2 separate regions of the Homo sapiens genome follow, and region 2 is linked to region 1. Evidence: fine-mapped expression QTL. Tissue or cell type: whole blood. Region 1 holds a variant in brackets; the other region holds the start of a gene. All regions are shown on one strand. Distances are from middle to middle.

Region 1 (5,433 bases):
GGTGAGAGAGTGAGACCCTGTCTCAAAAATAAAAATAAGATAAAATAAATGCAAATCATTTTTTAGTTTTCTGCAGTAGTATTGATAATTCAAAGTTAATTCAACTTTTCCCCCTACAACTTCCAGAAACAGATGCAGAAATTCAAACCATAACAAATACTTTCTGAAGTGACAATGAGTCATATCAGAAGTGTGATGATCACGCAGATGGGCTGATATAACTCATGATCACCCATCCGGACTGTGGACGTTCTTGTTTTTCAAACGTATTTGAATGCGTTTGATAAAAGCTGTAAATTTCTGGCTAGTCTGTAAATTGCAAGCATTCTCTTTGGGGCTTACATGTCTACTTCCCTTAGCTGGGATCAGCGACTTCTCTTGGGCCTTTCCTCCAGCAGGCTGGGTCCCCTCTCTGTACAGAAGTTAAAAGGATGTTGTCAAGCACAGAAAGGTAAAGTACGTGGAGAAGCAAGAGACTGAGGTTCTTGTCTTCTCTCCACCATTTAGTGGCCACGCAATCTGGATAAGTCACTTAACCTTACTGGATAAAAAATGCCTTCGCTACCGAAGATGGGAACTGGACCAAATAATCCCTTAGGCTCACTGCAAAACAGCAATACTTCTATCCAGCTGCTAAAATTTTGTACGATGTCTCTGGGCAGGATTATTGTCTTTTAACATTCCCTTCTTTTTTCAAATATTATACAATGATAATTTATTGCTAGTTAAAATTATTTAACCAAGAATTTGCACTATTAGTACTTCTTTTTTTCCCCAGCTAAAGAATTGCTGAAATGTTGGCATTACAAATTTAAGAATTTTTGCTAACATAACTCTGCTTTCCATATGTTATTTCAAAAATGGGCTGGGCATAGTGGCTCATACCTGCAATCCTGGCACTTTGGGAGTCTGAGGCAGGAGGATCGCTTGAGCCTGGGAGGTCGAGACCAGCCTGGACAACATAGCAAGACCCCATCTCTACAAAAAAAAAATCAGATGGGCATGTTGGCACGTGCCTGTGGTCCCAGCTACACAGGAGGCTGAAGCAGGAGGATTGATTGGGCCCAGGAAATCAAGGCTGCAGTGAGCTGTATTTGTGACACTGCACTCCAGCCTGGATGACACAGTGAGACCCTGTCTCAAAAAAAATTTTTTTAATGTAGTAAAATGTGTAGAATTAATGATCTTGATCCTAAATCATTAGCAACACTGTCAACTTGAAGCACTAGAACAGAAAAGAGAAGCTGTTCTCTGGTATCACAAAGGCCACCAAAACTCTTGTTTGCGGTTAGTGCTGTGAGAGGTTCAACTTTAGAGTCCCAAGTTCCTTGTGGGTTGTGAGACCACAGGCCAGTTTTTTAGTATCTCTTTTTTGCTACCTGTAAAAGGAGAGTTGCTTTATGAATTAAATAACTGCAAAGCTTTATAGATAGCGTCACACTGTAAAGGGTAGATATTTACCAGCATTTTATAAATTAATTGTGCTAACAGAAGGAAATTCTTTTCCAATATTTTTTTCTCTGATTAAAAATATTTTTATTTGTCATATCATAGTCTCTGGCTACAGATTGCCAAATACAAGCTGTTATTTTATTTGCAATAATTTTCATTATCTTAAATTCAAATCTCGATATAATGTGATACATTTGCTATGTTTTGATTCTTTAAAACAGGATGTTTTTATTAGAATAGTCGTACTCTAGCCACAGTAAGAATGAAAAAATTGAAAGACTCAAAAACAAGTCATCATTACTTTGTTTATTTTCATCCAAGTATAATACGTACTTGAATATCATCTCTAAAATACCATTTCTACCAAATGAATTTGTTCACTAGTGTGGAAATATAGAAGGGAAAATAAAATTAAGGAAACTTTTAAGGAATTATTAGAAGTTAGACGTGTGTTTTTGACAACAAAGCAGTGGAAATGCCTCAACACTGTGAACAATTTAATAGGGTAATATTTTAAAATCTATACTTTAATAAATATCAATTATATACACAATTAAGTTGGTTTTTCAAGAACCTGATCTAGACACAAAAACAAGGATGTGCAAATCCCAATTTAAATTTTTTTATTTCATTACATACAGAATATTTTACTAAAGTTGCTTAATATACAATCTCTCTCTTGTCGCTTTGAAGACCTTTGTCATGAAAACAATAATTCATTTGCCTGATATTTTGCAATAACATTCTTCTCAGTTATTATATTTAGTCTCATTACTGAATAAAATTTGTGTTCTCATGAAACAGTTTTCAGTGTCTTAGCAGTTTCTGGGGAACTCTGATGCATTAATCAGCTTGTCACTTGACTAGCCCATAGAGTGGTGTGCCATGCAGAAGTGAGAAGATGTGGCTTTCTCACTGCAAAGCTTCCCATCCATTAGACTTGTGTGTATCTTTTCTGTCAGGAAATGTTCTGCAGTTTTGAGATAAGATTGCTTC[A/C]TGTCTGACTGCTTAGTTGGCAATGATCACAGCTTGTGAGTTCGGTTTCACCAAAAATGTCCGTGGACCTCACCTGTAAACTTTAATCCATGCACTTTTTTTTTCTTTGAGGTGTAGTCTTGCTCTGTTGCCCAGGCTGGAGTGCAGTGGCACGATCTCAGCTCACTGCAACCTCTGCCTCCTGGGTTCAAGCAATTCTCTGCCTTAGCCTCCCGAGTAGCTGGGATTACAGGTGCCTGCCACCATGCCGGGCTAATTTTTTGTATTTTTAGTAGAGATGGGGTTTCACCAGCTTGGCCAGGCTGGTCTTGAACTCCTGACCTTGTGATCCACCCCCTTGGCCTCCCAAAGTGCTGGGATTACAGGTGTGAGCCACCACACCCAGCCTATTCCATGTACTTCTTACTTTGCCTTCCCTGGGAAATCAGTTTCCTGGAATATACCAAGGGGCACATTCTACTCCTTTTGCAGCATTCCCAGAAAACCATCGGCGTCCATGCATATGTATACATGTTTGCATATGCATGAACATAGTCATTCATTCTGGCTTCCTTTTCGAGTGGCTTGCGTCATTCTGCCGTGTATTTCCAGAGATTTCCCAGAGATTCCCCAGCGCCCCTCTGATGACTGGCTTATTAGCTTTGCTTGCCTTCATGTCTCTGTATCAATTTCCCCCGTCACCTATCTGTATTCCTTGCACCTTTCAAAAGACTGCCATTTTAGTCCCTTCCCCCAAACCCTGCAAACAGGAATGAGCTATTGTTTCTGTGTTGTATCGTTCAGCTTTCTGGGATTCTGCCATACGGTCTAAGTTTGGAAGTGTTCAGAAAACCCTTCAACTCAATCCCAGTTTGTCTGCTCTTTCTTCATCGTGTCAGAACTGGCAATGGCGTTCTGGTGGCTTGGATGGATACCGCTTTACTGCCTGATATAGTTTGGCTGTGTCCCCACCAAAATCTCATCTTGAATTGTAGCTCCAATAATTCCCATGTGTTGTGGGAGGGACCTGGTGGGAGGTGAATTACAGGGATGGTTTCCCCCATACTGTTCTTGTGGTAGTGAATAAGGCTCCCAAGATCTGATGGTTTTATAAGGGAAACCTCTTTCACTTGGTTCTCGTTTTTCTCTCGTCTGCCACCATGTAAGAGATGCCTTTCGCGTTCCGCCATGATTGTGAGGCCTCCCCGACCAGGTGGAACTGTGAGTCAATTAAACCTCTTTTTCTTTATAAATTATCCGGTCTTGCATATGTCTTTATCAGCAGCATGAAAATGGACTAATAAACTGCACATCTTTCAGGAAGCCACTGACTTACCCAGAAGTTTGTCCACACATCTGGTCTACTCACCAATCAAGGCACATATGTTGTCAAACTAGCTCTTCATTGTCACTGGGGACAGAGAACCTATTTCAATTCTCCATCTATTATTAAAGACTGTTATTTCTCATAATTCGCTGGGCTCAGTTGAGATGTTCTTCTGCTCCAGTGAGTGCGTGCTATGGTCACTCCTGTAGCTGCATTTAGTTTCTGCTGAGGCAGCAACATTCAAGTTGAGGTTGGTCGTTCACACATCTGGTACCTCAGCTGGGTGATGGGACTGGCTCGGCCTCTGTTTCTTTTCTTTTTAAATTTTTTTTTTTTTTTCAGAGAGAGGGGTCTGCTCTGTGGCCCAGGCTGGGGTGCAGTGGTGCAGTCATAGCTCACTGCAGCCTTGAACTCCTGGGCTCAAGTGATCCTCCTGCCTCAGTCTCTCAAGTAGCTGGGACTACAAGCACACACCACCATGTCCAGCTAATGTTTTATTTTCTATAGAGATTGGGTTTTGCTGGCCTGGAACTCCTGGCCTCAAGCGATTCTCCTGCCTTGACCTCCCAAAGCACTGGAATTACAGGCATAGACCACTGTCTCCATGTGGTTTCTCACCATGTTATAGTCTAGCCTATAATAAATGGCTTCCAAGAAAGCGAAAGTGGAAGCTACAAGTTCTTTTAAGGCCTTGGCTTAGAAGTCTAGGTGAAGTGATGTCCCATCACTTCCATTATGTTCTCTTGGTCAAAGCAAGATACAGCATAGCCCAGATTCAAGGGGGAGAGAGATAGATTGATGAATCTTGATGAAAGGAGTGGCTTGCACATTCAGGGACTGTGGCAATTATTGGCAACCATCTTTGGAAATGATCTACCATTGCACCTAATCACCCTCACTGGTGGTCAAAACATCTTGTTTCTTCTCCTTTCCTAATTACTTTGACTACTCTGGCCAGAGATTTACTTCCCATTTTCACTGGGTCTTCAATCTACAAAAGCTAGTCCTCTCTTGATAATATGCCTCTTTTATACATATTCGACAGGGCATAGCAGTACCAGTGGGTATGCAGCAGAGATATCACTTATATAACAGCATTGGTAGTACCTTTGGTAATTATTTAAATAGTTCCTTTTGTGCTTAAATCTAATTAATTATTTAAAACAAAACAAAACAAAACAAAAAAACTGTAGACTTCTCAAGATGAATCTGTTTACATAGTCTTTACGAGAACCTGGAAACTTTGCTGTAGCTATTCAACTGTTCCTGTCATATAATCCTCTTCGCGTCATTTTATAAGAGGCACACATAACAGGAAGTTCGAGCTGACTACTTGCAAAATTAGCCTCCTTTTCCTAGAATTTTAATGGGTGTGAGATCTAAGAAATTTATAGTTGCTCTTCTGGAGCTGCTGCTTGAAGCAACTAGTTGGCTTTGTCCTTGGGGAAACCTGTCGAGCCTTTCTGTCTCATTATCTCTCAGAGTTTTCTCCTAATGGAATAGGACGATGGACCTTAATGGTTTATCCTTCTTTCCCCATCCCCTCTCCTCAGAGAGTGCTTCTTGAATTAAAAACAGGTAGGAGATCAGTCTTCATGTAGAAGTGTTTCTTCCTTTTTTATCTTTTTTATTCTCCTCCTTTTTTTTTTTTTTGAGACAGAGTCTCACTCTGCTGCCCA
Region 2 (5,433 bases), 55 kb after region 1:
CAAGGGTGTTTAGGGAACCCAGTGCAAGGCTGACTCTTCTGCTGTTGCCTTGAGCCCAGCTGTGCTGAAATATTAAACTTTAGTAAATTAGGTGAAATTGCAGCTTCCTGGCTGATACAATAATGCCTTTTTCTTTTTCTGCAAACCATGTTCAGCATTAGTTTTCTGCACAATTTTCTGCACTGAGATAAAAATTGGAATATCTTTCAAATCCAGGCAACTCTTCATTTTCTAGATGATTGTGCCATATTCTACTTATTTAACAAACGGCTTAAACTTTGAAATATGTAGAACTAGATTTCTGTATTATTCTATCACTACCTGAGTATAGCATTACTTTATGTCATACTCAGATGAAGCAACTGAATCCCTACAAATATTAGTTTTATATAAAAGTAGAAGCCTGTTTTTATTCCTGATTAGTACATATATTAACAGCAGTGATGAGCTATAGAAGGAAATCACATTCCTAGTCACATTTATTTTTAGTTTTTTTGCTCCATTTTCTCTTTAAAAATAACACTAGTTCTTATGTGCTTTTATTCATTGACTAAACATTTATTGATCAATTATTATGTGCAAACTTCTGTTTTGTATTCAACAAGATGTTTTTAGAGTAAATCCGGAATTAGCAGAAAGAGACTAGGGACACTGGTATCTCTTGCCTTGATATATGTTTTCTTGTGATGGAATCTTTGGTGACAGCTTTATTTGGCTGTCTGGCCTGGTTGCTCCCAAATGGCTCTCACTTGGGCCTCTTTCAGGTGAAGACCATATGCTTCTAGGAGATGTCAGTTGAAATATCATATTTTTGTTGCTTGGGAAAGTTAACTCATGAAAGCCTTTTCAAAATTGAAGTCATTTCAAAAGATCTTATCAAGGTACTCCCAAGATGGTGGAATCCAAGGGTTGCATTTGGAAAAATCTCGAAACTATACAAAAGTAAGAGTGAATAATTTTATAAGCCTGCATATAACCACAATGGAATTAAAACCTAGGGAAGTGGCTAAGTGGGGGCTTGGGCAGTCAGGATAGTTTAGGGCATAGAGAGTTGAGACCCACTTTTAAAAAAATAGAGAGCCAGTCTGTTTCATAGTGTCATTGGATCACTCTCCTGCAACAGATGAGATACTCGTAAATGAGATACTAACCAATATGATCTAGACCGTGGTTTAGTTCTGGCTGCCATAAGAAGGATACCATAGGCTGGGTGACCGAAAGAACAGAAATTTATTTTTCACAGTTCTGGAGGGTAAGAAACCCAAGATCAGTGTGCCAGCATGGTCAGGTTCTGGTGAGGGTCCTCTTCCTGCTTGGCAGAAAGCTGCCCTCGTGCTGTGTCTTTACACTGCACAGAGCAGAGAGAGAGGAGGCAAATTCCCCGCTGCCTGCTCTTATGAGGGAACTAATTCCACCAGGAAGCCTCCACCCCATGAACTAATCAGGTATGAAAGGCCCCACCTCCAGATACCACCACATTAGATTGGGGATTTGGGTTTCAACATATGAATTTTGTAGAGACACAAACATTCAGCCCATAGCAGTGTTAAAAGAAAAACATCAGACAAATTAAATTTAGCACAGTTTATTCGAGCAAAGGGTTCATGAATTGGGCAGCACTCACAACCAGAGGAGGTCCAGTGAGGTCCACCCCATGGTGTGAGCAGCAAAGCCTGATAGGCCAAACTCAGAAGCACAGTGGAGAAACTGATTGGCTATAGCTATGCAGGCTGCCTTGTGGGGCCTGGTATAATGAGTTGGTTGCCCATGATTGGCCAGTAGCCCCCTGTTCATTACAGCCTAATGTAGGTTTCCATTGTTAGGTGGGAACTCAACGTACAGAGACAGCCTCAAGCTAATGGCCTCTTGCTTATTTAAGAGCAGTATGCAAACTTTTCCTGGAAAGTTTCAAATGGTAAATATTTTAGGCCCTGTGGGCTATGCCACCTCTGTCATCACTACTCAATTCTGCCCTTGCAGCCCTAGATCATACAGCCATATGCAGTCACTGATAATACAAAGCCATGGGCATGGAGGTTTTCCAATAAAACTATTTGCAAATACAGGCAGGGGCTAAACGGGTCTCCAGGTAGTAATGTGCTCATGCCTAAAGGTCTCCTAGCCCCTCATACCAGTTCGCTGTCCCTCTGAATCTGGGTTGAAGTAAGCACAGGTTACTGCTTCTGTTCAGTGTCATGATCCACCCAGCAATTCCCCAGTCCCCAGCTTTCTTCATGCGTGGGAGGATCCAGCCAAGCGACTGCACAGTTTTGAAAGTTTTTGAAGCGGCCCCTTTTTCTCCTCTCCTCTCTCCGCAGGCAGAGTTGTGGTGTGGCTGGGTGGTCTGCGTGGGCGTCCGGGGGATTCGCGGGCACTCGGGACGAGGCGAGGGCGCAGAAAACTTGGAGCCCAATCAGCACGGAGTTGAGCTTCCGCGCCCCAACCTTCAGGTGACCCCGCGCGGCGGCGGCGGCAGCAGCAGTGGCAGCGGCGACCGGAGCCCGCAGCAGCTCCGAGCGCCTCCGGGAGGACAGGCGGCGAGCTCGGCGAATCGTCATCTGCCAGCCGATCGCGGCGCTCCGCGGGCCGGGGCCGGGAGCCCGGGGCGAGCCCGAACGCGGCTTCTTCTCCGCCCGCCGCGGAGACTCTGCCGGGTGGGCTGCGGGCGCCCCTCGCTGCCGCCTGTGAACGCTGTGGGTGCGCGGGGCTGCGGCCACGGCGGCGGTGGCGGCGGCGGCGGGAGCCGCGAGTCGGGGCCGCCCGGGCTGTGCTTCGCCCCGGCAGCAGCGGTGGCGGCGGCGCCTGTGGCTCAGGATGCGGCCGGGGGGCGCACTGCTCGCCCTGCTCGCCAGCCTGCTGCTGCTGCTGCTGCTGCGCCTGCTCTGGTGCCCGGCAGACGCGCCCGGCCGCGCCAGGTAACCCACCCACCCGCCGGCCGCGCCCCGCGCCGCGCGCCCCGCCTGGCGCCCCCGGACCCCCAAGCCGCCCATCGCTTCCCCTCGGGCGCGGAGACTTTTGGCCGCGGCGGGGAGCAGCCCACGGGCGGCGACGGCCTGAGAGTGGAGTGGGGGAGGGGGTCGCAGGGAGGCGACCCTCCGACCGGTGGACGGCGGCTGGGGAGCAGAGGGACCGGTCAGGGCTGCGGGGGCTCTAGCGCGCATCGCTGTGGGCGAGGCAGCTGTGGAGCGGGACCTGCCGTCGGGTTCCGCATCAGGATCTCATGCTCCCCATTCTGGTCCTTGCTGTCTCTTCCTTCCCGCCCTAAGGCTCTTCCAACTCTGGGGCTGGGGACCTGGCCTGGGAGCCGGGGAGTGCGAGATCTCCCTGCCAGGCAAGGAGCGCGACTCCCAGCCTTTCAGCCAACAGCTCCCGGCGGGGTGTAGCAACTTAAGTTTTCTCCCCGGCTGTGCAGGATTCTGGTGGAGGAAAGCAGGGAGGCCACCCACGGCACCCCCGCAGCGCTGAGGACGCTCCGGAGCCCGGCGACCGCGGTACCGCGCGCCACTAACAGGTACAGCGGCGCCCAGCGCGGGCGGACTGGGGCTCGGGAGCTGCGAGCCGGGCATGGGGCGCGGCTGCACCGGCTTGGACTCGTTGGGAGTAGGCAGGCTGGGACGGCGCGAGTGAGTGTAAGAGTGTGCGTGTGTTTGAAGAGGGCGCGGGGTTGGGGGGGGGCACCCTTCACACTCCCTCAACCCTCTAAGCCTGGATGTGAATGGTCTTTGAATCAAGGGGGATCCTCCAGCAGCTGCATTTGAAAAACGGGTGCTGAGTTTTCCTCTCGACAATGGTGTGTTGAAAGCACCCCCGCCCCCGACCCCGCCACCTTTGGAGAGAAGCAGCTCAGCCTGTCTTTATGGAGGGATTTGGTTGGTTTGCTTTTTCTTTTCTATGCTTTAAAGGGCACCGGTGTTAAGATTCAGGTTTGTTTTGCGTGCTAGGAATGATTTTGTCCTTAGTGACTGGAGGCTTAAATTTTTTTTCTTATCATTCACATGTGTTTTTATTCATAGGCAGTAATTGTTTTTTTTTCAGATTGTAAAAGTAATACAGCTTTGTGCAGAAAGTTAGAAAATAGAACTGTATAAAAGAAAATGTTATTCATTCAGAGTCCTTACCTCTCAGAGACCATATTCAAGGTGGTTTTGGTCTATATTTCTTCCAGTAGTCTTTTCTATATACATATATTTCAAAAATATAACTTAGATTATACATTGCAGTTTATGTTCTGCCTTTTTTCTAAAAATCCTAGACCTATACCTGTCATTACATTCCCCTCCCCCCACAAAAACATTGCTTTGGATTGTTGCATAACTTATTATCTGAACATGCCATAATCTATTTAATAGTTTCCATTTTCAGACATTTAGGTTGCTTCTTGTTTCTGTTTTATTTTGTTTGCCATCAGTAATTCTATGAAATGCATCCTTGTATGTAAATCTTTATCTTCATTTCAAATTAATTACCCAAGATGGACAGACAGGAGTTGAGATTAGTAAGTCAAAGAGTATGTACTCTTTAGATTCTAAGTCACATTGTCAGTTGCTTCCTCGAAGGGCTGAATCAATTTACATTTTCACAAGCAGAATGTACTGCTTCCTGCCTTAGCATTGCTATTATGATTGCAATCTGCTATACGGTCTCTTTTCCTCTTTTTATCTCTTGCAAATCCCTTTTCTTCTGCGTATGCTTCTCTATATTCTTGGCTCTTGGATCCACCTTAATCTTCTGATGGTGTAACTCCAGGAAGCTCTAGCACGGCTCTAAGAAGGGTCTGGAAGTGGCTGGATAAACCCTGAATTGAGGAACACCACTGCCTGCCACCCCCTCATTGGAATTTCACAGCATATTAGAGGCACTAGGACCTCCTGGAGTAACAAAAGCTTTTGAGAAAAATAGTGTCCTATAGTTTTATTCTATTCAGGTTGGTGTACTATAGGTAGCCTAGCTTTCTTGATGAGCTGAGAAGCATTCCATCTTTTCCCGAGTCCTGTGGCTATTACACATTCGAGGGTTGACCCTTGGGGAAAGTTGGAAAGAATGTACTCATTAAATGGTTTGATCTCAGGTCGTTTTTAGAGGTAATCTTTGATGAATTTTTCACTTTCTTTTGACATACTTCTTTTCTACTTGGCATACTTCTTGGGCTAATATAGGTAACTCATAATTCTGAATATGGCCCATTTTATTAAGCTTTCTAAAATTTATACCATTCTGTGTTTGTAAAAGCCTCTTTATGTTTTGATTTATTTTATGTCCCCTTTATCATTTATGATTTTGGTTATTTATGGAGCAGGGGTGCAAGTTTTAATCCACCATACTACTTGGTTGTATAGAGAAATTGTAATTTCTTCATTTTTCTGGAGCTGGTCTGATCTTCCCACATGAGCCTCATGGTAATAATGCTGGTAGGAATAAGGAGAGCCAACAGTT

What was found. PIP is the estimated chance that this variant, and not a neighbour inherited with it, causes the effect.
Region 2: ST8SIA6 starts here. The variant in region 1 is fine-mapped to the expression of ST8SIA6 in whole blood (TOPMed, PIP above 0.99).

Annotation. Positions count from the first base shown.
Region 1 is chr10:17,506,286-17,511,718 of GRCh38, reverse strand. No RefSeq gene overlaps it. Among named protein-coding and RNA genes, the nearest start is that of ST8SIA6, 54 kb to the right of the region's middle. The variant A/C (reference allele first, on the strand shown) is at 2,449.
Region 2 is chr10:17,451,637-17,457,069 of GRCh38, reverse strand. ST8SIA6 (ST8 alpha-N-acetyl-neuraminide alpha-2,8-sialyltransferase 6) reads left to right here and starts at 2,475. Exons shown (of 8, transcript NM_001004470.3): 1 at 2,475-2,915; 2 at 3,413-3,511. The coding sequence starts at 2,815.